Linked DNA regions of Homo sapiens: all the other regions are linked to region 2. The links come from fine-mapping of genetic effects on gene expression. A gene starts in region 2. Each other region holds a variant in brackets. All regions are shown on one strand. Distances are between the middles of the regions.

What was found. PIP is the estimated chance that this variant, and not a neighbour inherited with it, causes the effect.
Region 1: its variant is the best candidate, but not a certain one, in a credible set for the expression of NSUN7 in whole blood (TOPMed, PIP 0.66).
Region 3: its variant is the best candidate, but not a certain one, in a credible set for the expression of NSUN7 in aorta (GTEx, PIP 0.70).

Annotation. Positions count from the first base shown.
Region 1 is chr4:40,813,272-40,823,828 of GRCh38, reverse strand. APBB2 (amyloid beta precursor protein binding family B member 2) reads left to right here. Exons shown (of 18, transcript NM_004307.2): 16 at 70-185; 17 at 1,779-1,958; 18 at 7,570-10,557. The coding sequence ends at 7,737. Among named protein-coding and RNA genes, the nearest start is that of NSUN7, 69 kb to the right of the region's middle. The variant A/G (reference allele first, on the strand shown) is at 5,496.
Region 2 is chr4:40,745,546-40,756,102 of GRCh38, reverse strand. NSUN7 (NOP2/Sun RNA methyltransferase family member 7) reads right to left here and starts at 6,148. Exons shown (of 12, transcript NM_024677.6): 1 at 5,803-6,148; 2 at 5,112-5,500. The coding sequence starts at 5,409.
Region 3 is chr4:40,869,377-40,879,933 of GRCh38, reverse strand. The region is part of intron 12 of APBB2 (amyloid beta precursor protein binding family B member 2); the gene reads left to right. Among named protein-coding and RNA genes, the nearest start is that of NSUN7, 120 kb to the right of the region's middle. The variant C/T (reference allele first, on the strand shown) is at 5,411.

The DNA of each region.
Region 1 (10,557 bases), 68 kb before region 2:
GATTTGGGCCCACATTTGAGTGTGGTAAGTGGCTTTAGGACACTTTAAATTATCCTTTTCTGTCCCCAGGAATGGATATTTTGAACAGTGCCATAGAAAATCTTATGACCTCATCCAACAAGGAGGACTGGCTGTCAGTGAACATGAACGTGGCTGATGCCACTGTGACTGTCATCAGTGAAAAGGTGAGAAGGAATCTTCGATGACATTGGTGTGTCTTATACAGTGAGTATAAGATACAGTGGTTTTCTGTGGAACTTAGGAACATAGTCAAGGCCGGAGTTGTGCATCCTTGTGATTAAGATGGCCTACATTTGAAAGATTTGGCCCTTTGTCTGGGTCTAAATCTGTGCATACCTCTGTTTTCCTGTGGCCTGAGAAACTTCTCTTCTGGTGCTTCTGATTCTGTCTTCCTCATGTGCCCCAGAGAGAAATTGTTTGCTAGAGGTGAGTGTGTGACGCTAGTAGTCGCTCACTCTCAGGGCGCCAGTATTGCCTGGGCTGTGTGATCTGGGGATGAAAAGCAGAAGATGCTTCCATTTGGGAGAGTCCTGTGACTATCAGTAGCAGAAGGAGCTATTGGTTGTCTTGAGAAGAGGCCACATTAGCCTCAGCCCAAATTATCTCAGTTTCGTGGTTGAAGAAATTGAAGCACAGAGAGGCTAAGTCATTTGCCCAGCATCACACAGTTGGAAGCAATGGAATCAGGACTTAAATCCAGGCAACCTGGCCCAGACTTGTGCCCACTTTTCTATTCTGCCTCTGTGAAGCACCTGCCAGGGAAAGACCACCAGTCATCAGCCTGCCCCACAGCTGCCCGGTTCACCCTGGAGAGAGGAGCAGGGTGCTCACTGCCTGCCTCCAGCTGGCCACACTGAGCTCTCCTCACCTCTTCAAGTAGGTCCCGCCCTTCCCCACACCAGCATCATCGCAAGCACTGCACCCTCCATGCTCCACCCTCTGCCTACCCGACCCTTACCCAGATCACCACCACAGCCTCCTTCCTCCTGAGAAAACTTCCCGACCTCTCACACTAGTGTACTTTGCTCATTAAACACTCCCAAGGCACTAGAGTGAATATTTAATTAGTCAAGATGTTAATGATCCAAAAGTCAACATTTTGGATGTGTTTATTAATTCAAAACTTGCATATGGTTCTTGCAAAGGATGTGGTGTTCATCCCTATGAGAAAGAATTCTGAACATTTCTTTACGCTGCCTCATGTGGATCCCAGATGGACACCAGTTTGCAAGAGAGAAAAGAAAAAAACAATTTGACAACTTTTTGTTGATTTGGCAGCTTTTTGTTTTATATGGTTTTAGATGGAAATGTGATTCAGTGTGCTGTTTAGTTTGGGTAAGAATCACTGGACGAAGAAAGATACCGTGAATCCCTTTTTTCTGGTGCTCTGGGGGTTTACTTGGCCAAATGGGTTTTGGGCCACCAGGTGTCCTGTATTTGGGCTAGATGTAAGAAGTATGGACGGCACTGTCCCTCCCCACAGTGAACTCACAGCCACGTAGCATAATGGAGAATGGGACCCACATCACACCCCATGACAGCAGTGTAGTTCAGAGCAAGAATGACCTCCAGAACAGGGTAGCCATGCAGTGATGGCCTCTTCAGACATTTGGGCAAGGTTCCGCCTTTCGAGAAAAACACAGGTCCTTTCTGAATTCGGCCTGGCTATACTTTCTGAATGCCAGTTCCTATGTGCTGCCACTCTTAAGCTTGATCCTGGGATCTCCTGATTGGATGCCGCATAATGTCTCTTGCAGAATGAAGAGGAAGTCTTAGTGGAATGTCGTGTGCGATTCCTGTCCTTCATGGGTGTTGGGAAGGACGTCCACACATTTGCCTTCATCATGGACACGGGGAACCAGCGCTTTGAGTGCCACGTTTTCTGGTGCGAGCCTAATGCTGGTAACGTGTCTGAGGCGGTGCAGGCCGCCTGCATGGTGAGTTATCCCGGTACAGGCTGTTGAGCCCTCCCGCCTCTGCTCATCTCTAATATGCCATACATTATAGCAGAATCACTCACGGAAATGAAAAAAGTCGAATCCCTAAAGTAATGCTTTACTTTATAACGCCGTCATTCCTAGGGCCAGAATCAGTTATGATAAACAGATTACATCTCCAAAGGCCAGAACTCCTGAAAGAAGTGGGGCCAGATAGAGGCTCCGATGAGTTTCATAACCACCACCTTGACGACGGTCAATCCTTGATCCCAAATCAATTTCATGTGTGAAATGTTGGTCGTGTATGAGTTGGTACTGTTTGGGTTCAATTCAGTACTTTAAAAATCAATACATTGAATGACTTTTGTTTCCAGTGATTGGTTTCTGTACACCGTTCTTATATATTTTATTTATATCTGTTAACTCAGTCCTTCCGACAACTCTGTTAGGTAGTTGTTAGTTCTGTTTTATTTATGAGAAAATAGAGACTTTAGGGAAGTTAGAGAATGGGCCTCAGGGCTTGTCGGTAAGTGACAGAGCCGAGCCTGGATTCAGCCCCAAGCTGCCAGGTGACAAAGTCAGAGCTCTTTATACCACATGGATACTTGGAAACAAACAAGAATCCCTCATTATTCCTTCAGCATGTGTCTTTGTGCCCCTCTTATGCCAGACACTGCAAAAGTTCTAATAAAAATGAGGGAACTGGGCCGGGGGTGGTGGCTTACGCCTGTAATCCCAACACTCTGGGAGGCTGAGGCAGGCGGATCACTTGAGGTCAGAAGTTCAAGACCAGCCTGACCAAATGGAGAAGCCCTGTCTCTACTAAAAATACAAAATTAGCCAGCGTGGTGGCGCATCCCTGTAATCCCAGCTACTCGGGAGGCTGAGGCAGGAGAATCACTTGAACCTGAGAGGCAGAGGTTGCAGTGAACCGAGATCGCGTCATTGCACTCCAGCCTGGGCAACAAGAGGGAAACCCATCTCAAAAAAAAATGAGGGAGCTATATGAGTGTGGGCACCAAAGCCTGTGGGCAGGTGTGTTCCAGCAGCAGCAGGTTGGGTGCTGGGCCCGAGTGGAAGGAGGTGCGGTCCAGATCATGGCGGGCTTATGATGATGGCGTGTGGGGGCCTGATTTTCTTCAGCAAGGATTGCTAAACTGGGGATTGAATTGATTGTATTTAGATTATTTATTTATTTATTTATTGAGATGAAGTTTTGCTTTTGTTGCCCAGGCTGGAGTGCAATGGCGCGATCTCAGCTCACTGCAACCTTCGCCTCCTGGGTTTAAGTGATTCTCTTGCCTCAGCCTCCCAAATAGCTGGGATTACAGGCACCTGCCACCACGCCTGGCTAATTTTTTATATTTTTAGTAGAGATGGGGCTTCATCATGTTGGCCAGGCTGGTCTCAAACTCCTGACCTCAGGTAATCCACCCGCCTCAGCCTCCCAAGTGCTGGGATTACCGGCATGAGCCACCGCACCCAGCCTGTATTTAGATTTTAGACGAGTATCCAGCAAAAAAAGAAGACAACCAAGTAGAGGATAGGTTGGAGGAACAAGGCTGAGGTGGCGATCAGCCAGGAGCCCAGTTACCTTCTGCAGATGGGAGAGAGGAGGAGCGTCCACGCTAGGAGAGCAGCGTTGGGAACAAACAGGAGCAGAGGCTTTGAGAAGCACCGAGCTGCCTGGCTGGGGGAGAACTGCTGCATGTGAAGCCCCTGGGCTTCATTTAATTCAGCCTCGCACTTACGGGCTGGAATCTGGGGCATTCAGCATGACTGAGATACAGTCCTTGCATTGTAGAGCTCAGGTATAGTGGGGGAGACACAGAAACCTAAACTCTGTTACAGTGTAGAAAGTGCTGTAAATAAAAGTATGAGGATCTTCACTTTCAGCCGGGCGTGGTGGCACATGCCTGTAGTCCCAGCTTCTGAGGAGGCTAAGGTGGGAGGATGGCTCAAACCCAGGAGGTCGAGGTGCAGTGAGCTACGATGGCACCACTGTAGTCCAGCCTGGGTGACAGAGCGAGACCCTGTCTCAAAAAAATAAATAAGAAAAATAAGTATGAGACTGTGCTGGATTGAGAAGTAACTGGGAAGAAAAAGAAGTGGAGGCCCTAAAAGCAGATAACTTACAAAGTTTGCCAGTGAGGGGGAGCTTGAAGGGCAGCATTGGAGGGTTTGTTCATGTGTTTATTTCAGGACAGGAGAGGCCTGCCCCTTTTTTATTCTTTATTTTTATTTTATTTTATTTTTTTTAAGAGATGGGATCTTGCTATATTCCCCAGGTTGGTCTTGAACTCCTCCCTGGAACGGCAGGGGAGCACCACCATGCCCAGCTAGGTTTTCTTTTGTGGAAAATGGAGGTAGATAAAGAGTGGAGGAGGCTGGGCACAGTAGCTCACGCCTGTAATCCCAATACTTTGGGAGGCTGAGGCGGGCGGATCACTTGAGGTCAGGAGGTTGAGACCAGCCTGGCCAACATGGTGAAACCCATCTCTACCAAAAAATACAAAAATTAGCCGAGCGTGGTGGCATGTACCTGTAGTCCCAGCTACTCAGGGAGGCTGAGGTGGGAGGATGGCTTGAACTTGGGGGTGGAGGTTGCAGTGAGCTGAGATTGCACCACTGCACTTCAGCCTGTGTGAAAGAGTGAGACCCTGTCTCAAAAAAAAAAAAAAGAAAAAAAAAAAAGAGAGCCAAGGGGAGGGACTTAGCCTACGAATTAGTTAGAGAGACCTTTTACTTTGACATAGTCCAGAAGATGCTAAGAACCAAGAATGGGTGGAGCTTGGGGAAGGAAAGGGAGTTCTCTGACCGCCGCCCCCCCACCCCATACAGCACATTGTGAGGTTATGAATGAAGGGAAAGTTTGCACCTGTAGTCCCAGCTACTCAGGAGGCTGAGATGAGAGGACCCCTTGAGCCCAGGAGTTCAAGTCCAGCCTGGGCAACATAGAAAGGCCCTATGTCTAATAAAAATGTTAAAAGGATGAGGTGGGAGAGCAGATTGCAAAGGTGGGGCGTAGAAAAGAGGCATTTGACCTTTATCATTTGAAATAGAGCAGGAAGGAGGGAGAAGGGGAGGCCTGGCGTTGAACACTTGTTATCTGGTGTCACACTTACACCATCCTCTGTGAGAGTGGCTAACTCCCTGCAAGAACTGTAGGGCCAGGATTCTAACTCAGACACCCTGAATATGCAGGAGCAGGGCTGGGGTTCAGGGGAGCAGGGACAGTAGAGGAGTCAGGTGAACCCACTGACCAGGTACAGGGAGTTGATGAGATAAAGGAGATCTGTGAAGAAAATAGAAAATGGGAGATTTCAGCCAAGCGAAAATGGATGACAACTATTTTGGTATTTTATGAAATTGAAACAGATCATAGCAGATGGTTTTAGTCATAAAATGAATGGCTTTCCGACTTAATTATACGTTTAAGTGATAACGACAATGAGTTTTATCTCTTTGGCTACAGTTGGTTTTCTGATTCTCAATTCATTTTCCCTCTTGGAAACAACTTTTACTCATTTGCTTCCT[A/G]TTTTAATTGTATCACTGCAACGAGTGGACACAGCTCAGCCAATCTAGTATAAGGCATACTAGTAAAATCAAACCATTCTTCTCTCCTGCCCGCTCTGAATCCAGTGTTTCTAGCTCAGGGGCTTTCTTCTTAGTTCAAATCCGCATGATTCTCCTCTGAATGGTCCGTATGTGAATTTATACCATGTGAATATCTATTGACACTAACGTTCTTTTGAATCTGCTTAATTTTTAGGCATATTTTACAGCTGTGTGGTATAGGCCCAACAGAAGACATTTTGGCAAAATTTAGAATAGAACAGAGAGGGACCCTTTATGAATTCCAACACTTAGGTGTGGTTTTGATTCACACTGGATGTACGTGACTACTATTTGAAATTCCAAGTCCAGAGTCCCATGTTGCCATGTATAAATCCGTGCTTTCGATGTGTGTGGTTTGGGTTGTGATGTGGGCCTAGTAAAATACCTTACACAGAGGAGACGTGTAATCAATCATCATATTTCATATGATTGATTTGAAAGGGGTTGTTTTGTGGCCTAAGGGGTATGATAGAACACTGTACCATATCCTTCCCCCAGGGTCTTGCTTTTTACAGGGACATCAGCCTATTCCATTACTAAAGAGCCTGTTAATATTTAAGTTGATTTTTTTTAAAAAAGCCATGGAGTGACAGTCCTTCCTTGGTATACGTGGGGCGGGGTGGAGGTGTTCTAGGACCTCTGAGTATACCAAAATCCTACATATTCAGGTCCTGCAGAACCCACGCATAGGAGAAGTCTGCCCTCTGAGTAATTGGGTTTTGCATACCAGGAATACTATTTTCAATCTGTGTTTGGTTGAAAAAAAATCCTCATATAAGTGGACCTGCACAGTTCAAACTCTGTTGTTCAAAGATCAGCTGTATTTTTTTTTCATTATTTATTTTGAGACAGGGTTCACTCCGTCGCCCAGGCTGGAGTGCAGTGGCCATGCTCACAGCTCACTGCAGCCTTGACCTCCCAGTCTGAAGCAATCCTCCCGCCTCAGCCTCCCAAGTAGCTGGAACCACAGGCATGTGCCACCACACCTGGCTAATTTTTGTATTTTTTGTAGAGACACGGTTTCACCATGTTGCCCAGGCCGGTTTCAAACTCCTGGGCTCAAGTGATCCGCCTCCCTCAGCCTCCCAAAGTGCTAGGATTACAGGAGTGAAACACCATGACTGGCCAGGTCAACTGTATTTTAAAACGTTTGGATTAGAAAAAAAAAAATTTGATAAATTTTAACTTTTTATCTAATCTTAAAGAATTAGTTATCTTCCCATTATGCAAAACCAGGTGGACTACATTGTTATATTTCTGAAGAACAGGAATTATCCCTGGTGCCAGTGCTAATGGATTTTTAAAAATTAATCCATAAAGATTTAGACTTGTATGTACCATGTATCTTGAAATCTTAATACCTCATCTTTTTAATTAAAACAGGAAATAGGGAAGGAAACAAACATTTCTGAATGCCTTCTGTGTTGCTAGGCCTATTTCAGGCATTCCACAAGCATTACAAGTATTACTTACTTAATCATAACACCCTCTGTAAATAGTCCTTTCTTCAGCCATTTTACAGTTGAAGAAACTGAGGCTCAGAGAGATTTAATAATTCGTCTGGGGTTCACAAGTGATAGACCTTAAACTATGCCCTTTCTACTGTGCTGTCAGTGTACCATGAGCACCTGCCTAGATTTGCATGTCTCTGATGAAAAATGTAATTAACACACTCTCTCCCAATCCTTTCTGGTTTCATTAGCTCATTGACTGTGAGGTGTATTCGTTGCGGACTATCAATATAGAGGACACGTGGAGGGTGGAAATGGATGGAAGGAAAGGGTGGCAAAAGCCAAAACCCCTTTGTTGAGCCTAATCTTTTAGGAGAATTTAAAGCACTCACATTCAGAGAAAAATAACTCTTGGATTTATGTTTAGGAACTAGGTCGTTAACCTTTGGGAGTCAATGTATTATGGGTCATGACTTAAAGTCATATTAAAGATGAAATAATATGTTGTTAATTACCTTAAAACACGTTTTGTTTTATTTCAGTTACGATATCAGAAGTGCTTGGTAGCCAGGCCGCCTTCTCAGAAAGTTCGACCACCTCCACCGCCAGCAGATTCAGTAACCAGAAGAGTCACAACCAATGTAAAACGAGGGGTCTTATCCCTCATTGACACTTTGAAACAGAAACGCCCTGTCACCGAAATGCCATAGCTGCACATGCAAAAGGACTCGGCTATTTACCTGAAGATTGACTAGCTACACTAAAGAAAATGAACTCCGCCATCCGACCTTCCATCCAGTTGCTGATGCTTTGTCTTCAGAGAATTTACCCTTAACCAAGCAGTGTTAGACAAGCATGTTCTCTCGTCTTGCCACCATCATGTGATATGAAAAGAAGCATGAATAATTTTTTTTGCTGTAAGTTACATCATGCGCAGTGGAAGGTCTTTTTCTTATTGTAAATATTGTGAACATTACTTAACTTCACACACACACAGAGAAGAGTGTGGCCCCACCCCTCCTAGTGAACTAACGCTGCGTCCTTGGAATGAATGATGCGTGAGTTAGTTTCACTGTCTTCTTGGCTGGACCTGTCACAAGCAACCTTTAAGTCCTACAGCACTTTGCCCTGTTTTCAACATTGGAGTAGGCACTGCATAGCAGATACCATTGAATTGCTGTAAAAATAGGATGGCGAGTTTGTGTTTTAATTTTTCATAAAATTGAACCTGTTGGTTGACAAAATTGGCTGTTGGCATCAGTATAGAAACCAACTGGCAGCTTTCCCTGACAAGCTCTTTGACACATGGACACCATTTCATGTCTACAGCTGTTTGTGGGATGTTGGAAAAAAATGAAACTTCAAAATTGATGAAAAACTAAATTCGAGGAATTAAAATCGAACAAAACATAGCCTTTCTTTTCCGATGGTTTTCAAACTGATTATTTTTAAAAGAGATTAATAAAATCATAATGCATTTTGGGTGGGACATATTTCAAACTTCTGCCTTATATTGTACGGTGCAGCTAGAGAATTATAGTTCACTATGGCCATTCTCTACATAAACATTAAGATGAAATACTCCTCATCAGCCTTTCATCCTTAGTTTGAGAATTAGCTGATATGCAATTTGAAGTTGAGGAAATATCATTGATATTTCTATCATGCACGATTATTTTAGATTTCTACCACCGTGTGATTTTTGCTAGTCCATGTGCTAGAGGTAAACGTTCTGCTGGAATTCTGCATCCAGCTCTATCCCCCTCTGATGCTTTTTGCCCAGAAAGCTGTCTGTCCATCATGTATTGTCCATGGCAACAAATTACATTAGGTTGAACCTTTCCTTGATTTTATGTATTTAATATTAGAATTTGTTGGACTCAACTAGATATATTTTTTAATTTATATTTTTTCCATTTTACTTTGAAGATTTGAAATGTTCATACCTGAGCAAAGTCTACACAGGAGTAATGGACTGTTTAACAAGTTTCCCAAAACAGCATTTTCCTGCTCCTTCGTATGTAGGTGAGAAACTTAGCTGGAAAGACATACAAATTTAGACTCTCGTTGACATTGTCGTTTTAAAAGGAAGTTGCTAAGGCGATCAATCTCAATATTAGTCTTGTTTACTTCTTCTTAATGTCAAAATTAACATTTACAACATCCAATTATAAAAGTAATGCTTTATGTTTATACACTGCTATGTACTTGTCAAAATGGTTTCCACATTCTTATCACATCTGAGCCTTACCAGGTAGAGAAGGTACTAAATACACTTTAGAAGTAAAAATATGAAGTACCGAGAGGCTAAACCCACTGGCCTAAGATCTCACCAAAGTTCATGAAAACCAGGACTAGGACCCACGGCTCCCAAAGCCCGTTCTTGCTGTGTTGTGCTGCCTCCATATCCGTCAGGAAGAGCCTTTCCAGAATGATTCTGGGCATATACTAAGAAGAGCAGGTATGGAAAGATCTATTGTCAGGGAATCTTAGAATTCCCTACACGAGTGGGAGAAAGATGTCCAAATTCCTTACGCAGTGGTATTCATGATGGTGCCCTATCTAAGTCCAGGACTGTTTTCCTACAGCGTGCCTCAAAAGTGTTGTAGAGGGCAGGATTCTACATTCACAGCCTGTTCCATCTACGAGATTTTCCAGATGCTACTTGTGGTAGACATTCCTAACTCATGGTACTTAGCCACCAGAGATCATGATGGAATGAGTGGGTGGCTTTTCTACCTGCCATTCCCTCAGAATTCATGAGGGGTGGGGGACAGGGGGACCGGAATTGTCTTAGCACCCCAATGTTATGACAAAACTATGCTACTTTAGAAACGCAGTCTGTTTTTCACCAATTGACATACTACTGATCTGAAGTAACCAGTGCCATCATAAGAAATTACTGCATTAAGAAAATCCTTGCTGTGCCCTTTGAAAAGCTGTTCAGAAATCATTTACAGTGATCTTTCATCTCGGTCGCTGTAGTGAAACATTTTAGTGTGATAAATTTCAAAATTCTAAACAAATTACCCACTTTTATATTGGAAATCTCTACCAGAACTCCCTCTTCATTTTTTAAGGCATACATTTGCTTGTTTTCAAGATCAAGAATTCTGAGCTAGCTTTAAGTAGCAAACTGATTTATATGTGCAATTATAGGATGCATTAAGATGAATGATAGCCTTTACATATTGAAAACTTTGCAGACGTTTTGTTTTGAAAATGGCATTGTATAGTAAATGCAAATTAATTTTGTAAAATTATGTTAAAGAGTATGTTCAGACACTTTCTGCCATGGCCAAAAAGTATGTATGAAAGTATGTGTGTATTTGTTTGTAAAAGGATGCCAATGTTTTACCTGATATCTTAGTGACACTTCAGTTATCTATGCATTCTTTAGATCTGTGATTCGGTAAACAGGCAGCCATGTTCACGATGCCTTCTATGTCTTACCATATTTTTAATTAACCTGTTAAATACAGCTTAAAATATTTTTATTTTATTTATTCTATTTTTACTGAAATATACTG
Region 2 (10,557 bases):
TACTTTTTTTTTTTCCTGGGGTCCTAGACCACACAGTATCGGCTTGGTCTCTGAAGAAGCTAGAGACTGAATAACTAAGGTCAGCCAGCCACACGACTGCACCTTGTCTACAAAACTGACCCCCCAATAAAAATGCTAAACAAACAGCAAGGCTCAGATGAACTTCCCTAGTTGACAATGCTTCATTCATGTTGTTATTTATCATTGGTGGGAGAATTAAGCGCTCTCCATAGACCACCCTGGGAAAGGAAAATAGGAAGCTTGCGTCTAGTCTCTCCTGGACTCTGCCCTATGTACCTTTACTTGTTGCTGATTTTAATCTGTCCTTTCACTGTAATAAACTATAACCATGAGTATAACAGCTTTGCTGAATTCTGTCAGTCCTTGTAGCAAATTATTGAATCTGGAGGTGGTCTTAGGAACCCCTGACTACAGTTACTAATTCGCAAAAGCTATAACCAAACCATATGTTAAGCATTTACTGTTTCTCACTGACAGATTATATGATTCTGAAATCACCAGGTTAATGCTACAATCAGTTCCTGGGATTCGAAGTTCAGCAACAAAAATATAAACCTAGAGAAGGTGGAGAAAGAAGCCAGGAAAAAGATAAGCAATTTCAGGGATATCTCTTTCTCCAATTTTTTTTTAAATTTGTTGTTTGTTCATTTCTTTAAAAAAAAATTGCCAGGTTTTTATTTAAAAAAAAATTTTAGGCCAGGCACGGTGGCTCACGCCTGTAATCCCAGCATTTTGGGAGGCCGAGGCAGGTGGACCACAAGGTCAGGAGATCAAGACCATCCTGGTAACATGGTGAAACCCCGTCTCTACTAAAAATACAAAAAATTAGCCGGGCGTGATGGCATGTGCCTGTAGTCCTAGCTACTAGGGAGGCTGAGGCAGGAGAATCACTTGAACCTGGGAGAAAGAGGTTGCAGTGAGCCGAGATCGCGCCACTGCACTCCAGTCTGGGCGACAGAGCAAGACTCCATCAATAAATTAATTAATTAATTGGCTACTGGTACTCTACTGCTTTGACAAAACTCTCAATAGGAATAGGCAACTTTTCATTAGTAATTCTACCTTCGTTAGCAGAAAATTGACCTTGGGGTTATTTGGTAAAGCAGAAATAATGGCACTCTTCATTTCAAAAAACATTTTACGGAGCGCTTTAAATCTTTAAAAGGTTAATCAGATAAATATACTTCCTGTCTTGAAAGATCTTATATACAATGAAGGACATCAGCAAAGGAACAAACAATAAAACTGAAAAGCATAAGACACAACCAAAGGAATACAGTTAACATTAGTATAATTAAGAGATTTTCTGTTATTGTTTTTCTTCTCCTACTCCTTAAATATTATGGTAATGTGATTTAATTACCTGTTCACAAATTCACAAACAAAAGGGACCATTACTCAAGCTCTCTTTAATTTTCACAATAACCTTTGCAGTTTTACAGCTCCTATAAAATCTTAGGGAAGAAATTCTGAGTTTTCTTTTCTGAATCATTATTCCTTGAACTTATACTGTATAAGCCAGATGTAAGTTTACAAAATATCACATGTGAAAGTATTGACAGAACACTGATAATACAGAAGATAAAAGTGAAATGCATAAGAGCCTCCAATATTTTAAAAGTAAAATAGCAGATGGCTTGTTGCAGTGGCTCACACCTGTAATCCCAGCAATTTGGGAGGCCAACGTGGGCAGATTATCTGAGGTTAGGAGTTCAAGACCAGCCTGGCCAACATGGTGAAACTCCCATCTCTACTAAAAATACAAAAATTAGCTGGGCATGGTGGCAGGTGCCTGTAATCCCAGCTACTTGGGAGGCCAAGGCAGAGAATTGCTTGAACCTGGGAGGCAGAGGTTGCAGTGAACCGAGATTGCGCGATTGACTGCACTCCAGCGTGGGTGACAGAGCAAGACTCTGTCTCAAAAAAAAAAAAAAAGGAAAATAGCAGGCTCCTAATTATCTTGGAAAATCCACTACATAAAATTCTGATTTTATTCTATTTGCACATTCAAGAATTACTGATAATTTAAAGCAAGACTGTTGTATTAGTCCATTTTTATGCTGCTGATAAAGATATACCCGAGACTGGGGAATTTACAAAAGACAGAGGTTTAATGGACTTACAGTTCCATATGGCTGGGGAGGCCTCACAATCATGGCGGAAGGTGAAAGGCACATCTCACATGGCGGCAGACAAGGGAAGAGAGCTTGTGCAGGGAAACTCCCCCTTATAGAACCATCAGATCTCATGACACTTATTAACTATCATGAGAACAAGTACAAGAAAGACCTGTCCCCATGATTCCATTACCTCCCGCCAGGTCCCTCTCACAATACGTGGGAATTCAAGATGAGATTTGGGTGGGGACACAGCCAAACCATATCAACGTATTATTATAAGAAAAAATATATTTAACAAGTAAACAATACCATCTTACCTTATAATTTGAACTTATAAAAACGAACGTTTCAAGAAAAGAAGTTTCATAAAGGTTTATGACAATTTATTTGAATGGGATTTTCTGTGTCATTAAGAAAGATCACAGCACTTTGGGAGGCCAAGGCAGGTGGATCACGAGGTCAGGAGTTCAAGACCAGCCTGGGCAAGATGGTGAAGCCCCATCTCTACTAAAAATAAAAAATTAGCCAGGCGTGGTGGCAGGTGCCACTTGGGAGCTACTTGGGAGACTGGGGCAGAGAAGTGCTTGAACCTGGGTGGCAGAGGTTGCAGTGAGCCTAGATTGTGCCATTGCACTCCAGCCTGGGTGACAGAGTGAGACTCTGTCTAAAAAAAAAAAAAAAGAAAGATAAAATAATTACAAGATCTTTCATAAAATAGAAAATAGGAGGGAGAGGACAAAAATAATAATCTATCACACATATCACTGTAATACAATCATTTAGTTAATGCATTAATTTTATATAGAATTATAATTCAGGCTTTTCTTATTGAGTACTAAAGGTAATACTCAATATTCCATTAGGAGAACAAATTGCCTAGAATAAAATTCTAGCATTAACATTAAATGCCAATTAATCAACACAGCTGCCCAGTCTGCATTTCACTGTTGCGAGAAAAAAAGTATAAAAATGTTCATTTGATTCATTGCATGAAATACAACACTTTGGTTAGGGGAGAGGGGAAGAAGATGGATGAAATAAAATCTCAGAGATTAAACTGGAGGAAGAATGGTTAAGACGGACTTAAAAGGAAAAGAAAAATTACTGAGGAGAAAACAAAGAAACAAAAAACAAAGAGACTCTCTGCAGACAACCAAAAATATATATTCCTGTCTAAATAATCAGTGAGACATTTTAATTCAACTGAGCATTTTTTTTTAATTTTAAAAAATAGAGATGGGGGGCCAGGTGCAGTGGCTCACGCCTGTAATCCCAGCACTTTGGGAGGCTGAGGTGGGTGGATCACAAAGTCAGGAGATGGAGACCATCCTGGCTAACACCGTGAAACCCCGTCTCTACTAAAAATACAAAAAATTAGCCAGGCATGGTGGCGTGCGCCTGTAGTCCCAGCTACTCAGGAGGCTGAGGCAGGAGAATGGCGTGAACCCAGGAGGCGGAGCTTGCAGTGAGCCAAGATTGTGCCACTGCACTTCAGCCTGGGCGACAGAGTGAGACTCCATCTCAAAAAAATAGAAAATAAAACTAAAAATAGAGATGGGGTCTTGCTATATTGTCCAGGTTTGTCTTGAACTCCTGAAGTCAAGCAATCGTCCCACCTCCACCTCCAAAAGTACTGGGATTACAAGTGTAAGCCACCGCATCTGGCTGAACTGAGTAATTAACTGCCTCCTACGAGCAAGGATGTACAAGGCTCATTAAGTACTAAGAAAATCATGCAAAAGAGTGTTGCCCTTTTTGAGGTGTCTCTTTAGGAAGGCTTCTGCTCATCATTTTGGCCATGCTGCTAATATTCTAAACATTTCTGGAACTTCTTTTTGGAACTACATTCAATCAGTTTACAAACCAACATAAAGTTTTTAGTCACAGCTAGTACGAAAACAAACAACTTCAAGCCTTTTGACTGCTCTCCTCATAGTAGCAATATTTGGTCATTTCCTAGTGTCAATTCCACAGGGTCTTGCTCTGTCACCAGGTTAGAGTGCAATGACACCATCTTGGCTCACTGCAACCTCTGCCTCCCAGGCTCAAGCGATCCTCCCGCCTCAATCTCCCAAGTATCTGGGACTAAAGACATGTGCCACCATACTGGGCTAATTTTTAAATTTTTTTTTGTAGAGAGGAGATCTCACTATATGCCCAGGCTGGTCTTTAACGCCTGAGCTCAATCAATCCTCCCACCTTGGCTTCGAAAAGTGCTGGGATTACAGGCCTGAGCAACCACCCTTGGCCTCAGATTGATAACTAACCATCCTTGAGTCTCAAACCCTGAAAGCAAATTAGAAAGGGAAGTTCTACTAAAGTTTGGCTCCTCCCATTAAAGCTAGTGGCTATGAATGGGATAGTCTTAATTGGGGTTGGTGTAATTTTGATATTCATTTTTTAAATTTTGCACCTTTTCTTTTTATTCCGTCTCTGTTCCTCTCCCCATCCTCCCTCACTGGTTTTATATTTGTGAAAGCTCATAAACTAAAATACCAAAAAAGGTAAACACAGGGAATGGAAAGAAATACACAGGGAGGCCAGGCGTGGTGGCTCACTGCCTGTAATCCCAGCACTTTGGGAAGCTGAAGAGGGAGGATTCCTTGAGGTCCAGAGTTTGAGACCAGCCCAGACAATAAAGCGAGACCCCTAAGTCTACGAGGGAAAAAAAAATACAGGGAGAGGGAAATGATCATTGGAATAAATTGTTTCCTTGTTGAATGTAATGACCGCGCACTACACCGATCTAAGGACAAACACAGTGCACGGGGAAATCTGCAATCCTGGGCTGGAAGAGCTAGTTTCATGGGAACCCTAATTCCTTGACACTTGCAATTAACCAAAGATATGCACATGCCTAAAACCAAAACCTGGTGTGAATGAGGGGAAGGGAGGAGGAGGGCTGCATTCCCCAAATTCTCTCGCTATTATTTTCTTTTAGTGTTGATCTTCCAGACTGGCACAACTCACATTTCAGGGCACTGAAAGCCAGCTCATAAGACAAACGCTGAAAGGACTGATCCTCAGACTCGGACAAGGACCGCAGGGGTTCATTCCCATACTTGATTAAGACTTTCTGTGCCGACTTTTCGATTCGAATACCCTGAAAAATGTTGGCTGCCATGACATAAACGGAGTCCGGATAGCCCGTTTTTTCGGGCACACCAGCTGAGCTTTTCCCACCGGACAGAGGCAGGGAAGTGAGTTGGGAGATGATCTCGGGATCTTCTTCGTTCGAAAACTCCAGTTCGCCCGTGGAATTCAGCATGTCTGCCCCTCGCCTGTCGTGAGTCCTTCACCCTGGGGTTAGAATTCCGATGTTCCAGGAAACGGCTTTCCTCGCATCTGCAGCATGGTCTCTGTGAAGAGAGAAGGTGATTGCAGTAAATCACTCTTTCTGCAGCACCCCTGTGGGTGGCCCCCTTCGTTGTGGCCTTAAAGACTAAGAGGGAGCATTTCCCGTCCCATCTGAGTGTCCCAGACTTCGAGCCTGGGACGCTCAAAAAAAAAAAAAAAAGCGAGGAGGGGTGCAGCGGCGGAGGGAGAAGAGCCCCAAGGAGACCGACGGCTTCCCTCAAGCCAGTCTGGGGGCAGAGCTGCCCCCGGAGCCCCGTCCGCGTCCCCACAGCCCAGTCACCGGCTCCCCCGACTCCTCCCTTACCCCGAGGGCGGATGGTTCCCGGGGCTTCGGGGACGAAGACGCGGAGGGCGGCGTCGGTCACAGGCCCTTGGGAGCCCCGGGACTGCGGGGCGACGGCTGCTGCCCGCGAAGGCCGTTTGGTTCAAATGCAGCCACTCCCACCGGCAGGATTCGGGGCAGGGGGGTCGCAGCCTCTGGCGCCCGGTTCGCTCCGGTGTCGTGAAGTGGTGGGCGCCTCGGGGCCTCGCCTGGCCTCGCGCGTGAGGCCTTCGCGGACGTGGCGGCGAAGAGGGGTGAGCGCGGTGCCCGGGGTCTGGCTGGCTCAGGCCGAGGAAAGCTCAGCCTCCCGAGTCTCCGGCAGTCGACTGCTCCCGGACCGGGTCTTCATGGCAACCGCGAGCGGAGGTGGGGCAGGGGGCGCGGCGCGAGGGCCGTTCCCGCGGGATTTGGCGGGTGCTACCTGTTGCCGGGAGAGTCGCTCTTCCCCCAGCGCGCGGAGACACCTGTTTCAGCCCCTCCGAGCCAGAGGCCTCTTGCACAGTTCCTGGACCTCACCGGGCCTGAGTGCGTGCCCTTGGCTTTGTTTATAAACATTTGGGGATATTTTTGAGGTAGTCTGACGTAGTTCCGTGGTTTTAACTCACAAGTTCCTGAAGTCCCTGTTAAAACTACACATTCTTTAAAATATTTTTAAAATATAGTAATAATTTTTTTTTTGAGACATGGTCTCGCTCTGTCGCCCAGGCTGGAGTGCAGTGGCGCAATCTCGGTTCACTGCAGCCTCCTCCTCCCGGGTTCACGTGATTCTCATGCCTCAGCCTCCCGAGTAGCTGGGACTACAGGCGCCCGCCACCACACCCTGCTAATTTTTGTATTTTTAGTAGAGACAGGGTTTCACCGTGTTGATCAAGTTAGTCTCGAACTCCTGACGTCAAGTGATCTGCCGGCCTTGGCCTCCCAACGTGCTGGGATTACATGCGTGAGCCACTGCGCCGTCTGTAATAATTTTTTTTAATAACAGAGACAGGGTTCCCATTATGTTGCCCAGGGTGGTCTCGAATTCCTGGGCTCAAGGAGTCCTCCCTCCTCGGCCTCCCAAAGTGCTGGGATTTCAGGCGTGAACCACCGCCTCCAGCTAAAAAAAAATCCTTGGAACCCATCCTAGAGATTTGAGTTGCTAAGACCCAGTAATTTGCATTTTTATCAGGTAACTGGCGATTCTGATGCAATCAGCCCAAAGACCACAGTTTGAAAAACTCTGGTATAGTTGAAAGACAACTGGTCCTAATTCCACCTCTGCCTTTCCTCCTTAGGGATTTGCCCTTCCTTCTTTAGGCTAAGGCCATTTCCATTTCCAGCCAGTGGTTAGTAGGATGAAGGGGAAAGAGAGGGCAGCCCATATTTTTCAATGACCTGAAAGGTGCACATATCACTTTGGCTCACATTTTATTGGTCAGAACTCAGTCATATACCCAGCAACCAAGAGGCTGGTAAATGTGTCCAGCTAAAAATAAGGGAACTATTACTGTAGAAGAAGGAGAGAATGGATAATGGGGAAAAAATTAGCAGTACAGAACTCTAACCCTGACCCCTTCTCTCAGAAATCCACCCACTTTCATTATCCCCGGAATACGTTAAACATTCCGTAACATTTTATGTATACATGCATTCATTCGTTCGTTTAACAAGTATATATTAAATTCTTGCTGTGTCCCTGGCATTGTGTTCAGCCCTACAAGTAAAATAATGAATGTATAGAAATGATCAGACACCTGACCGGGCGCGGTGGCTCACGCCTGTAACCCCAGCACTTTGGGAGGTCGAGGCGGGCGGATCACGAGGTCAGGAGATCGAGACCATCCTGGCTAACACGGTGAAACCCCGTCTCTACTAAAAATACAAAAAAATTAGCCGGGCGTGGTGGCGGGCGCCTGTAGTCCCAGCTACTCAGGAGGCTGAGGCCAGAGAATGGCATGAACCCGAGAGGCGGAGGTTGCAGTGAGCCGAAATTGGGCCACTGCACTGCAGCCTGGGTGACAGAGCCAGACTCCGTCTCAAAAAAAAAAGAAATGATCAAAGACCTTGCCCTCAAGAAATTAAAGATGGATATATTTGTATTTTGTCACCTTTTCATTTTTGTTATAAAGATTCGTGTACATACCTGCATTACCCCCCTTCTGCCATCTTTCTATCCACACAACACACACACTCTAAAATAGTCTTGTTTTATCTTTATCTTTTCATTTTTATTATATATCTTTTTTATTCCCAGATGCTAGCAAAATATCACTCTCTTTCACATACAGACATTCACAGAAGATTACAAATATGGAAGGTGTCTTAGAGGTCATGATATATTTTATCATGCATCACCCAGTACACAGTGATGTGAGGCAATAGCTAGCTATAAACTTTGAAATATTGTCATTCAAAATATAATTTGAAGAGTTTATTTTCTTTAATAATAGTTCAATGTAAGTAACAGTTTACTATATTGAAAACAAGGTTTAACGAGTCTCTATCCCCAAGGTAGAGCTTAGGCAAAGAGTTGTGGGGTTAGCAAATTCATGGTTACTATTTACTTTAATCATGTATATAATCCTGCCTCCTTACTTCTCACTCCTGGTTTATAGCCTCATTGTGGACTTAATGTATTTGAGGGGAGGGTCAGAGGAGAGCATATTAAATTTCAGTGAACACTGTAAAAAAGTAACCATAGAGACAGGCATATGAGTTCAATTGTTGTGAAAGCAGGATAGTAAAAAAAAAAAATGTAGTTTTTGTTTAAGTTACACTCTGTAATATGACCAGAGCATTAAATCAGACATGAGGAGAAAATCAAAATGTACCTGAGGCTTTCTGCCAAAGGAAATTAATGATTTTTCTTTCCCCAGGGGGTAGAATATTTAAGATATTTGTAAATTAACATTCTTGCATTTGACTCAGAGTACTAGTATATGTTAGGCATGTGAATATTCAAAATACATCTGCTCACTTGCATCAATTTGATCTAGACAATATAAAACGGTGCCCAGTTCCAATGAAGCCTGTTACAGAAATATAAAAAGCATAAGAAACATAAAGAATCTTAACTTGTGTTCTTAAACACCAGGACTCAACTTCCAGTTATTGCTTCTTAGAAACAGTATGGTAAATTTTCATTGCAACACCTTTTGCAGATTCCTCTGTCACCTAGGCTGGAGTGCAGTGGTGTGATCATAACTCATTGCAGCCTTGAACTCCTGGTAGCTCAAGCAATCCTCCTGCCTCAGCCTCCTGAGTACCTGGGACAACAGGCATGCCACCACACCCAGCTAATTGTTTTTTACTTTTGTAGAGGTGGAGTCTCACCATGTTACCCAGGCTGGTGTCCCCCGAGCTTAAGGAATCCTCCCACCTTGGCCTCCCAAAGTGTTGGGATTATAGGCATGAGCCACCATGCTCAGCCTTTAATTATTTTTGTTTTATAAAGTGTTTTATTGTAGACCTAAGCTATATCCAATTGAAACTCTGGGGACTAGGGCAGGCCATCAGGATTGCCATTTGAGGATCATTTGGGCCTTGTGGGTAAGGTACATTTGGGGGCTGACGGTCAGATGCTGAGTTATTACATCCCCAGAGGATGAAAGGGAATAGATGCTCAAGAAAGCATCACCTGAGGTAGATGAACTTCGTTCTGTGATACTGGGTGAAAGTTGGTATGCAGGAACACTTTACATATGCTAGAGAGTAGCCTACTCAAGTGTCCTCTTAATACTTAGCCAAAAGATTAGCCAAAGAGTCATAACCACTTGCAGAGGAGAAAAAAAATTCTCCCTTAATTTGGATGCAGAAGATTCTAACGAAGCTGATTCCTGAAGGGTGGTGCAAGTGGAGAAGAATGGAACTCCACACCATAGCAGTTCAGAGACAGCACCGTTAGAAAGAACACTCTTGATATTTAGAAGCCAAAAATGACAAGAGCAAATAAGGAGGAGTTTGAGTGACCTAGGATACAAGGGGAAAGAAGATTCAGGGCCGGGCGCGGTGGCTCATGCCTGTAATCCCAGCACTTTGGGAGACTGAAGCGGGCGGATCACCTGAGGTTGGGAGTTTGAGCCCATCCTGACCAACATGGAGAAACCCCGTCTCTACTAAAAATACAAAATTAGCTGGGCATGGTGGTGCATGCCTGTAATCCCAGCTACTCGGGAGGCTGAAGCAGGAGAATTGCTTGAACCTGGGAGGCGGAGGTTGCGGTGAGCCAAGATCGTGCCATTGCACTCCAGCCTGGGCAACAAGAGCGAAACTCCATCTCAAAAAAAAAAAAAAAAAAGATTCAGGAGAGTTGTCATTCCAGGTCTTGATTACAGTAGACAACCATTTGTAACAGATTCTAGCAACACAGTGTTTCCTGGAGTTAGTCACTCAAGCACTGCCTTCATGATTTTTTTTTTTTTTTTGCCATATATACATATACAACCATGTATAGTATTTACTCAATATTTTACTTTAAATCAGATTCACTTTCTTAAATTGAAAACTAAAAATGGAAAGTCAGCATTATTTGCCATAAATGAAAGCAACCACCACAAAAGCAGAACAATACTGTTAAATGCTAGCTAGAAAAGGTTGTGCCATGTCCCCAGGCTTGAGGTTGATGGTTCTTTATTAAAAAGGGAATGGACAGTGTCAGAGAGGTGTTAAACACTCGTACAAAAATGAGACTTTATCCTTGTCAGAAGGATTGAAAAAGCATTATATAAAGCAGCTTTCTCACTGTGTGATTAAATGTTA
Region 3 (10,557 bases), 120 kb before region 2:
GATCACCTGAGGTTAGGAGTTCGAGACCAGCCTGTCCAACATGGCAAAACCCTGTCTCTACTAAAAATACAAAAATCAGCTGGGTGTGTTAGCACATGCCTGTAATCCCACCTACTCGGGAGGCTTAGGCAGGAGAATCACTTGAACCCAGGAGGCAGAGGTTGCAGTGAGCCGAGATTGTGCCATTGCACTCCAGCCTGGGCTACAGAGTGAGACTCCATCTCAAAAAAAAAAAAAGAAAGAAAAAAAATATTGTCCTGGGTCAACCGTAACATATTATTAAAAATAAGGAGAAATTTAACATGAGAGCTTAGTATTATTCTGTCTTTTTAATATCTAGAAATTATCTCTAGTTCATAGTGAGTCTCAACTAACGAGTTGGTGACTCTTCATAGAGTTCCCTAGAGCTATTTGATGCTGCCCTTCAAAGGCTAAAATTGTTGTTCAGAGCCCCCCAAAATGGCTTTGTATTTTTCTAACCCTCTTATGAAGTCAGAATTGGTGTTTAAGTATCAGAGCTGTGAACTCAAGCTTTGGAATGGCTTGTGTTCAGAGGAGTTATATTTTAACAGAGAAAAATGAGAATGTAGGAGAATTATCGTGTCATGAATTTTCAGCTAGCCTTGAGCCTTTGGGTGGACTGAAAAAGTCTTGTTCACTTGGGAGCCAAGAGTTCCTGCTTCTGTGAGTCCATGTGAGGCTGCACCAGTTTCCTTCCAGGTCCCACGTTCTAGTCTCCTCCTGCACACTGCTCTCTCTTAAGATAAGAAGACAGTAGAGTTATGTTCCCTGCAGTCCCTCGGAGCAGCACCCACACTTTGGGCTCAGGCACTGGGTCTCATGTTTCTTTGTTATAACTTCAACTGGGAATTCTGTTCTTCTAGGCTATTCCCCAAAAAGTGGCCTAGGGATGTGCTTGTTTGAAAAGGGAAGACAGGAAAGGAAATCAAAGACAAGAATTAGGAAATTGAACCCAGAGTCCTCAAGCAAGAACCCAATTTCCAAGAGTAAAAAGCTCTTGGGAACAGAATCATGCAGGCGCGGTCATGGCAGCCAGAGGACGGAAATGCCAGATCAGACGTGGGGCCAAAGAAAAAGAAGGGAGCCAGAGAGTTGACTTAAAATGGAAAGAATAAACCTCTCCAAACCCTGGAAGAATCATCAAGGCTATAAATAAAGGAACACAGAGTGGGTGACAGACGGGCTCTGACACCATTCACTCATCTAGAAGAGTGTGATGGGGGAGGGGAGACTAAGAAAAATAAAACCCAGAAAATGTTCTCATTCAGTCAGAAATTTTATACCAGAAATACTCCAAAGAGGAAGAAACATTTGAAAGTCCTGAGGCGGGAGAGGATGAGTTAGGGGGCACAGTTACAGTCTCTGAGGGAGATCCGGACAGGGGGCATGGCAGGGACACAGTGGATGAAGATGGATGCTGACATGGCAAACAGGCAGGTAACGTGATGGGGAGGACAAAGCCAAGCAGACACAGGTGCCTTTCTCTCTGCGGGCAGTGCATTAGATAAGCTTCTGATTGCTTCTCTTTTATTTTGTTTTTTTTGTTTTGTTTTGGTTTGGTTTGGTATTTTTGGAATGGAGTCTCACTCTGTCGTCCAGGGTGGAGTGCAGTGGCAAGATGTCAACTCACCTCAGCCTCCCGGGTTCAAGTGATTCTCATGCCTCAGCCTCCTGAGTAGCTGGAATTACAGACATGTGCCACCACACCCGTCTAATTTTTGTATTTTTAGTAGAGATGGGGTTTTGCCATGTTGGCCAAGCTGGTGTTGAACTCCTGGCCTCAAGTGATCCGCCTTCCTCAGCCTCCCAAAGTGCTGGGATTACAGGCGTGAGCCACCGAGTCCGGCCTGATTGCTTCTCTAATGCTCAGCCACCCACCCTGTCTTGCCAAGTCTGCCCCTTTAGGAAAATGCTCCAGCTGCATTTTCAAGGGCTGCTTTTTCTCTGCACCAAGCACCCTGCCCACTGGAGAGCCATCTTCAGGCAGGGCTCACGAGCCCCATGCCCTGTACCCTGAGCTGCTCTGCCCGGGGTGTGGCAGGTCATGATAGAGTTAAGAGTCACTTTGCCACTGGACAATAGTTCATGACACGTGGCTCCTACCTCCCTGATCCCTAAATCCTTCTTGCCTCCTCCCTAAAGGAGAGCTCCTGAGTGAATTTGTTGGAAGCAACACTAGAAAACTGCAAGTCTCAATCTTCAACTCACAGAATCAAATGTTCCTGTGAGGTCCTAAAACCAGGTCTGTCCCAGCAGGTGAACTAAACAGGGCACAGCAGGATGAGTTTGCAGGAATTTTATATATAGCACCGATTAAGGCATTAATGCCATTTTTCAAAGAGTTGACCCTTCTTTGATTACCAAATCTGTGAAATAGAGATTTAGTTCAGATTGAAAGTATCTGATCCCCTCTGACCCTGGCCCTCAGCACCCCACCCCTACATGACCTGCCTTTATACAGACCTGGAATGAGGATGGGAACAAGGATGAGAGGGCACACGTCATCCCCTAAGTCCATAAACAGCATCTGAGCTCCAAAGAATTGAGTTGTCTTTTGAGAGAAGTCTCTTTCCTAACCACGTGCCACGAGGGTGTAAATAGTGGGTATGGCCCAACCTTGGCTAACCTAGGCTAGGCCACCTTTGCTCTCAGATGGGTAACAGCTTTCTGCTGGGATGCCAAGGCAAATCTGTTATACTCCACGTTGGCCAAGACAGACTCCTGACCCCATTTTCAAAGCTGTTCTTTCTATTTATTCTCCCGTGTTCTGCATTCATACATTCACTCATTTCGGCATGTGTTCATCCACTGGACTTATGCTGAGCCACTGTGGTTAATGGCTCTGCCATGTAGTACACAGGTCAGCAGTGTGGGAGCCCCCGACCCTGCTCCTGTGGGTCCTCCCCACCCATAGTGGTGGTCAGCCCTAAAGAGTCTACCTCCTTAATACCTAGGTCAGAGTTAAAAACAGGCTGTCATATTGACAGTGGGTAATGATTCAAATATCCATCAGCAGGTAAATAGATAAACAGACCATGGTATATTGTATAACAGATATCCACACAGCAGTGAAAAGGAACCAGCTGTTGATACAGTCGGCCCTCTATATCTGCAGATTTTTTACATCGACACATTCAACCAACTGCAGATGGGAAATATTTGGAAAAAAATACAACAATGAAAAATAATACAAGTTTTTAAAAATAATATAACAATTATCTACATAGTTTTGCATTGTATTAGGTATTATAAGTAATCTAGAGATTAAAGTATACAGGAAGATGTGCATAGGTTATATGCAAATACTGTCCCATTTTATATAAGAGGCTTGAGCATCGTTGGGGGTCCTGGAACTAATTCCCTGCAGACACCAAGCGACAACGGTATATACAGCAACGTGCTGAATCTCACAATAATTGTGCTGAGTGAAAGAAGCCAGACCAGAAAAAAAGGTAGTGTGTGATTGCATTTATGTAAAATTCTATAAATGCAAGGTAAACTAATTTGTAGTGACAGAAGGCAGTTCAGTGATTACCTGGGAAAGGACAGAAGGCAGGGATTATAACGAGGCAGGAAGAATCTTTGAGAGTTACAGATATACTCATTATGTTGATGGTGGTAATAGTTTCACAGGTACATATTGTCAAAACTTATCAAATTGGATATTTTAAATATATGCAGTTTATTGTGTATCAATTATACTCAATAAGGTTGCTTAAAATAAAAGTTTTAAAATATGCAGTGAGTGCATGCCAAAGATTTATTTAACTCATGAGCTGGCTACCAACACCAGTTCAAAGGAACCTAAGAAAGGCTGAGAATCTTCTAAACCTGATAACCAAGCCACCAGGAAGCACTTGTGCTTTCAAGAATTTGAAAAGGTTTCAAAAAACCTCAAGCCAGGAAGAATCACACACATACACAAACACACATGTACTGCTGCCTAGACACAGCCTAATAAAACAGTTGAAACCAAAGGCATAACACAGATCATAACAGCAGCTAGAGGAAAAGAGAAAATACTAGAATAGATGACTAAGGTGGATACAAAACTGGTTAATGTTCTACTGGCAATGAAATCCTCACCTTTGGGGTTATTTTTTTTTTTCTTAGCAGAAAGTTGCAAACATTACTTGTAACATATTAATGTTCTACAAATTAACAACTACTCTCCCAGAGTCTGAGCCCTAATCACTAGCAAAGTCAGATAAAAATACATTTCCCTAGAGCTGGGCTGTTCATTTCGGTGATGGCCTTGAGCACTTGAAATGTAGCTGGTCTGAATTGAAATGTGCTGTAAAGTGTAAAATACATGCCAGAATTCACAAACATTGTATTAAAAAGATGTAAAATGTCTCATAACAATTTCATATTGATTACACATTGAAATGATAGTATTTTGGACATATTAGCTTAAATAAAATATTGAAATTAATTTCACTTCCATTTTCCAGTTGTTTAATGTGGCTACTAGAAAATTGTAAATTACTTAATGTGGCTTGCATTGTATTTCTGTTGAACGGGACTCCCCTAGTGAAGTAAGTAATCCTTAGGAGGGTCCATTAAGTGTTGCTCTACTGTGACATTGAAAGACACACTGTCCTCCTTTTGTCTTATTTCCAAGTGTTGGTTAATTTTTCTTAACTACTTCTTATACCTGTTTGTCCACCCCTGATCTTTAACTCCCATCTCTGTCTGTGTCCTTGACAATCAGCAACCCAAGTGATTTTTCTGATGGGTAAAAAGACATGACATGTTCCCTGCTGCTCAGGATGGAGCCAAACCCCACGATGTGACATGTCAGGTCTCACCCCTGCCTGCCCCCATCCCAGGCAGCACAGCTGAGCCAGGCACTTACCCAGCTGCACCGGACTGTGCCTTCACACACTTAACTACCAAAAATGTCACACAACAGCTCTGACTTGCACTGTGTGCCCTGCTTTTTGATTTTTTTTCTTTACTACTCTTTTAACTTTTAAAACGCTGTTTGTGACCACTGATTGGTCATAGTTTGAATAATACTGATCTCAGTCAAATTTTCTAAGAAGTTTTTGAGCTGAGCACTCTACCAGCTTAGTAACTGGTGTTTAAAGAAAAAGAGATTCCACACTCACATAATTTTGGGAAACACTGTATGCAATGTTCTATTCTCAGAGAAAGCCCCTAAAACACACCCTCAGCTGTTGAAGGGTCTGAGCTGTCCCGCAGTCAACACTAGATGAGCAGAAGACATATTATTGGCTTCATTAACGGCGAACCTTCAGAGGGCCAGCAGTTCTGGGACCCACCAGGTCAGAAAACACTGTTCTAGGGATTCTGAATGATAACATTGTATCAGGGGACAGGATAACAAAGCTAGAGTTTCAGACTTTCATTTACTTATCTCCAC[C/T]CCCCGCCCTGCCCCCGCCTCCTGTGCCTTCTCTGAAAAGTGTTGTGTTCTTACGAACAGCACTTCCATTGCATTCAGTCAATACAGTTGTAAGTGATGATCCCAGGAAGGAAATCTCTACTTCTTTGGTAATATCATCCCTGAAGACGTCCTTTATATTGTTAAATTGCCCTTGGATAAAAAACTGAAATGCAGATTTCTTTTAGATTTCAGTATCTAGAAAATATTGTCTCTCAAAGGATATGCATGTAAGAATTTAGTTAACAGGGAAAATAGTATAGTTTATCATGTTTCCCTTTTTGCTAGGAAGTTTCAAGTTAAATTAAACCTGCAATTGCAGTAATTAAATCAGATAGAATCATATAACATTGCTGTTTTTGTGGATCAGAAATGGTTGAATGTGGTTCCAACTAATATTTCGCCTCGTTAATTTATAGAATTACTTTCTCTTCCTTATATTTGGCTTTAAATTTTACTTTTCTAAATTTAGAACATAATAGACTGTGTGTGCCTTTTATTGTAAGCCACTTAATTCTTTTGGGAAGGAAATAGGATATAAATTTTGATAAATAAACAGAGTTCAATTGTAATGCCCCATTAACCAATGAGTGTATAAAATACAGATTTTTTCTCTGACTTCTCTATTATTCAATAATTGGGAAATGCTATGCATTCTAAAACAGGAGTATTTTGCGGGTTTTTTCCCCCTGTAAAATCCCTAAGCAACTAAAAGAACACAAAGTTAAAAATCTATCCCTACAGCCAATTAATATTTATTGACCTATCCAAATGACACCCGTGGCCTTCCCCATTAATCAGAGAATAATAGTGCACAGAACCACCTCAGCCCTAAAGATACTTGCTTGCCAAACCAGTTTCCTCCACCACCAGCGATCTCATTGCGAAGAGTAGCAGCAATTCCTAAAAGCATTTTAGCTAGTGGACGGTGTGAAATTTCTTAATATATTTCCCCCACAAACTCAGTGGTCTAGCATAATTGTCTCAGCTCCTTCTTGCCTAAAGGAAATGTTCTGATTCATCTCTGTACAGCGTTGAGCTTAAGAGTTGCTTTGTCTTCTTCATTGACGTAAGAGAAGCTGTAGAAGTTATTTATTAAGAAAGATAAAACCTGATACTATTAATTAAATTCACTAAGTCAAGGATTGAAAATTAAGAGGGAAAATTTTTTTTAAATAAAAGATAAGGTTTAAATATGTCTACACTGTACAAATTAGAGTGCTTCTTAAAAAAGAGAGGAGATATAGATCTTAAGTTGTCAAATCTTGGGTCACTTCTAATCATAACATTGTCAGTCATTCTCTTAGGCCCCAGAACTGGTAGAGCAGATTATACCACAGAAGTATGCTAACCAGGGCAGGAGGATAGAAATGGCTGTCATCATCCATATACGGTACCATCTTTTTTTTTTTTTTTTTGAGATGGAGTCTCACTCTGTCGCCCAGGCTGGAGTACAGTGGCATGATCTCAGCTCACTGCAACCTCCGCCTCCTGTGTTCAAGCAGTTCTCCTGCCTCAGCCTCCCAAGTAGCCGGGATTACAGGCACGCAACACCACGCCCAGCTAATTTTTTTGTATTTGTAGTAGAGATGGGCATTCACCATGTTGGCCAGGCTGGTCTCGAACTCCTGACCTGAGGTGATCCACCCGCCTCAGCCTCCCAAAGTGCTGGGATTACAAGTGTGAACCACTGCACCCGGCGCCATCTTTTTTTTTTTTAACCTTTATCATTATAATTTAACCAGATTTCTTCCTGTGTATCTTACAGTGATCTGTAAAGTTGGCTTTCTTCATGTCCAAGGCCACATCATCCTCATTCCTAACTTGAGATGTCAAGCCGTAGAATTCCTTTTCTCCCTCCTTCTTCCTCTATTGATCCCATCTAGCTTTCTGGGGATTTATTGGATACCCATGTGTTAAGTCCCTAGCATGTGTCTGCCACCATGCTTGGCACCAAGGATGTAGCCATGAATGAGAACGCCATGGTTCTTGCCCTCATGGGATGTGCTAAGAGGAACAGACAGGTAATGACATGGGCTCATGAGTCCCATGAAGCACTTTCTAACATGACCGTCAAGCCCTATGCCAGTGTTATGTGACATCCCTATCCTTAGGACTTAGTGCAGGTCCCACCTGTTCTGTTAGCCTTTCTGTCACCGTTCGTGTCCTTCAGCACAGGCTAGGTTAGACTGTAATAACAACCAAAAATCTCAGTGGCTTATAACAATTCTTTCTGCTAAAAGTCCATGGTGGGTTGGCTGAAGACACGGCTTCCTTTGTCATTGTCCTCATTCTCTGTCTAAAGCTGATGATAAAGTCACAATCTAGACTACAATATTGGCAACAATGGTGGCAGAAGGAAAAGATGCGCTGACTGAACATTTCTGCTGGAAATGATGCTTAGCGCTTTTGCTCACATTTCATTGGCAAAGCAAGATGCGTAACTGCGCCTCACTTCAAGGGTTGGGGAAATATACGCCACCCCTACAAATGGGAGTGAATCTTCACAGCACACCATGCCCTGTGCTGTCTTTCAGCTCTGTAGTCATGCATATATTCATTGTACTAGATCTCTTCAACCTCGGGTTGTCACTAATGTCACAGATGTGTGTCTCCCTGGTTAGACTGTGAATTCCTTGACAGCCATCACCATATCTTAGATTTCCTTGTGTGTGCTTCAACATGATGTTATCCTTATATTAGATGCTTAAAAGTACTTTTGATTATCTGAAGGGGAGAATGAGGGGAGAATAATCAGAACTCTGTGCATGTTTTGACACAATGCTTTATGGTTTACTGAGGGTCTATCTCCATTAGTCCTTTCAGGACTACAGGGTGTAGCATTATGTCCCTTTTACAGATGAGGAAACTGAGACCTAGAACTTTTACACGACTTAATCAGTTTTATACAAAAATGTGGCTGAACCGTGTCTGAAACCATGAATTCTAAATTAATGGGTCAGTGTTCCTACTCCTTTTAGCTGTTAATATGGACACTCCAATTACCTTGTGCAGAGGCCCACATGAGGGAAGGAAGAGGAAACTTCAGAAAAGGAGTTGAGGCCGGGTGCGGTGGCTCATGCCTGTAATCCCAGCACTTTGGGAGGCCAAGGCGGGCGGATCACTTGAGGCCAGGAGTTCGAGACCAGCCTGGCCAACGTGGCAAAACCCCGTCTCTACTAAGAATACAAAAACTAACTGGGGATGATGGCTCTTGCCTGTAGTCCCAGCTACTCAGGAGTCTGAGGCGGGAGGATCGCCACTTGAACCCAGGAGGTGGAGGTTGCAGTGAGCCAAGACTGCAACATTGCCCTCTAGCCTGGGCAACAGAGTGAGACTCTGTCTCAAAAAAAATAAACGGGTGCGGGGTAGTAGGGTCTTCACAGATGTGATTAAGTTAAGGATTTTGACCTGAGGATATTATCCTGGATTACCTGAGTGGGACCTAAATCCAGTCATAAGTGTCCTTCTGAGAGACACTTACACATATATATATATGTATGGCTGGGCGCGGTGGTGGCTCACCCCTGTAATCCCGGCACTTTGGGAGGCCAAGGCGGGTAGATCCCCAGAGGTGGGGAGTTCATCTCTGCTAAATATACAAAATTAGCTGGGTGTGGTGTCATGCACCTGTTATCCCAGCTACTCGGGAGGCTGAGGCAGGAGAATCGCTTGAACCTGGGAGGCGGAGTTTGCAGTGAGCCGGGATCGTGCCACTGCACTCCAGCATGGGTGAGAGTGAGACTTGGTCTCCAAAAAAAAAAAAAAAAAGAGTGTGTATACACACACACACACATATATGTATATAATACCTATAAGGTAACATTTGCAGGTTCCAGGGATTAGGACCTGATTTCTTTGGGATATTTTTCAGCCTTCTACAGTTAGGGCAGTGGAAGCCCCTTCTGCTACCCAGCTTTGCTCCTCCATCTTCCTCACCCAGCTGTCTCTCCTCTAGGTGGTACAGATTATATGACTTCTTAAATGAAAGGGCTTTTGGAGTGAGGCACACCGGTTGGCTTCCTGATCTGCCTCTGTTAGCTGGCTGACCCTGAGCCAGTTACACACTGTGCCCCAGGGCCCTCTTGTGTAGAGATGGAAGCTTTGGAACCCCGATGCAGCTTGGTTGTAAGATATTAAATGGGAGAGGGCTTGGCACGGGTCCCTGTCCCCTGGTGAGCACTCAGAAGAGAATGTTGTCCCTCCCTCTGCGCTGCCCCTCACTCTGCCCTCCCTCATCTGCACTGGCAGTGGTGGGCACAGTGGGCTGGAGGCAGAGGAGGCTGCTTGTTGAGATTCCTGGAGCATTTCCTCCCATTTATTTTTCTTAGTGAAGTCAAAAACAGACAAATGTTTATTAAATAATGAATCATTCTTTCCTAGAAGGATTATTTCATTTCATGGGTGAGCGGTTTATTGCCAGAGAATGATGTCTTCCCCCAAAATGATGTATAACGTGATTTGGTACCTAAGTTTTTAGACACTTGAATGTTTTTTCTCTCTTCCATTTAAACTTGAAGGTTGTGAAATGTAGTCCATATTCATTCATACTCTGTTCATTTCAGGAGATACCCACAAGCAGAATGGGGTGACTGGGGCCTGCTTTGACCTCATATTTTCCTATTTCTACAGGAATATATAGAATATTTACTAAATACTAGGTATTTAGTAATAAATACCACAAGCCTTCCTAGGTAATAAGCCTGTTAAGAAAAGTAAGCAATTATATAATTGGCAAAGAAATTAATACAAAGATCTAAACCAAGAAATATCAAAGTCTTTTATTCTTAGAATTTTTTTCATTTCACGTATATTCCTTGTCTGCCTTCAGAATCTAAAATTCTGGCCCACTTTGTTTATAGAGCGGTCCCTTTAGACATTTGCCTTATTTTTAGGCCTCTTTTATTTTTTTTCTTTGGAGACAGGGTCTCACCCCTTCACCCAGGCTGGAGTACAGTGGCAGGATCATAGCTCACTGCAGCCTGGATCTCCTGGGCTTAAGTGATCCTCCCACCTCAGCCTCCAGAGTAGCTGGGATTACAGGCACATGCCACTTCGCCCAGTTAATTAAAAAAAAAAAATCATATTGATGGGGTCTTGCTATATTGCCCAGACTAGTCTCAAACTCC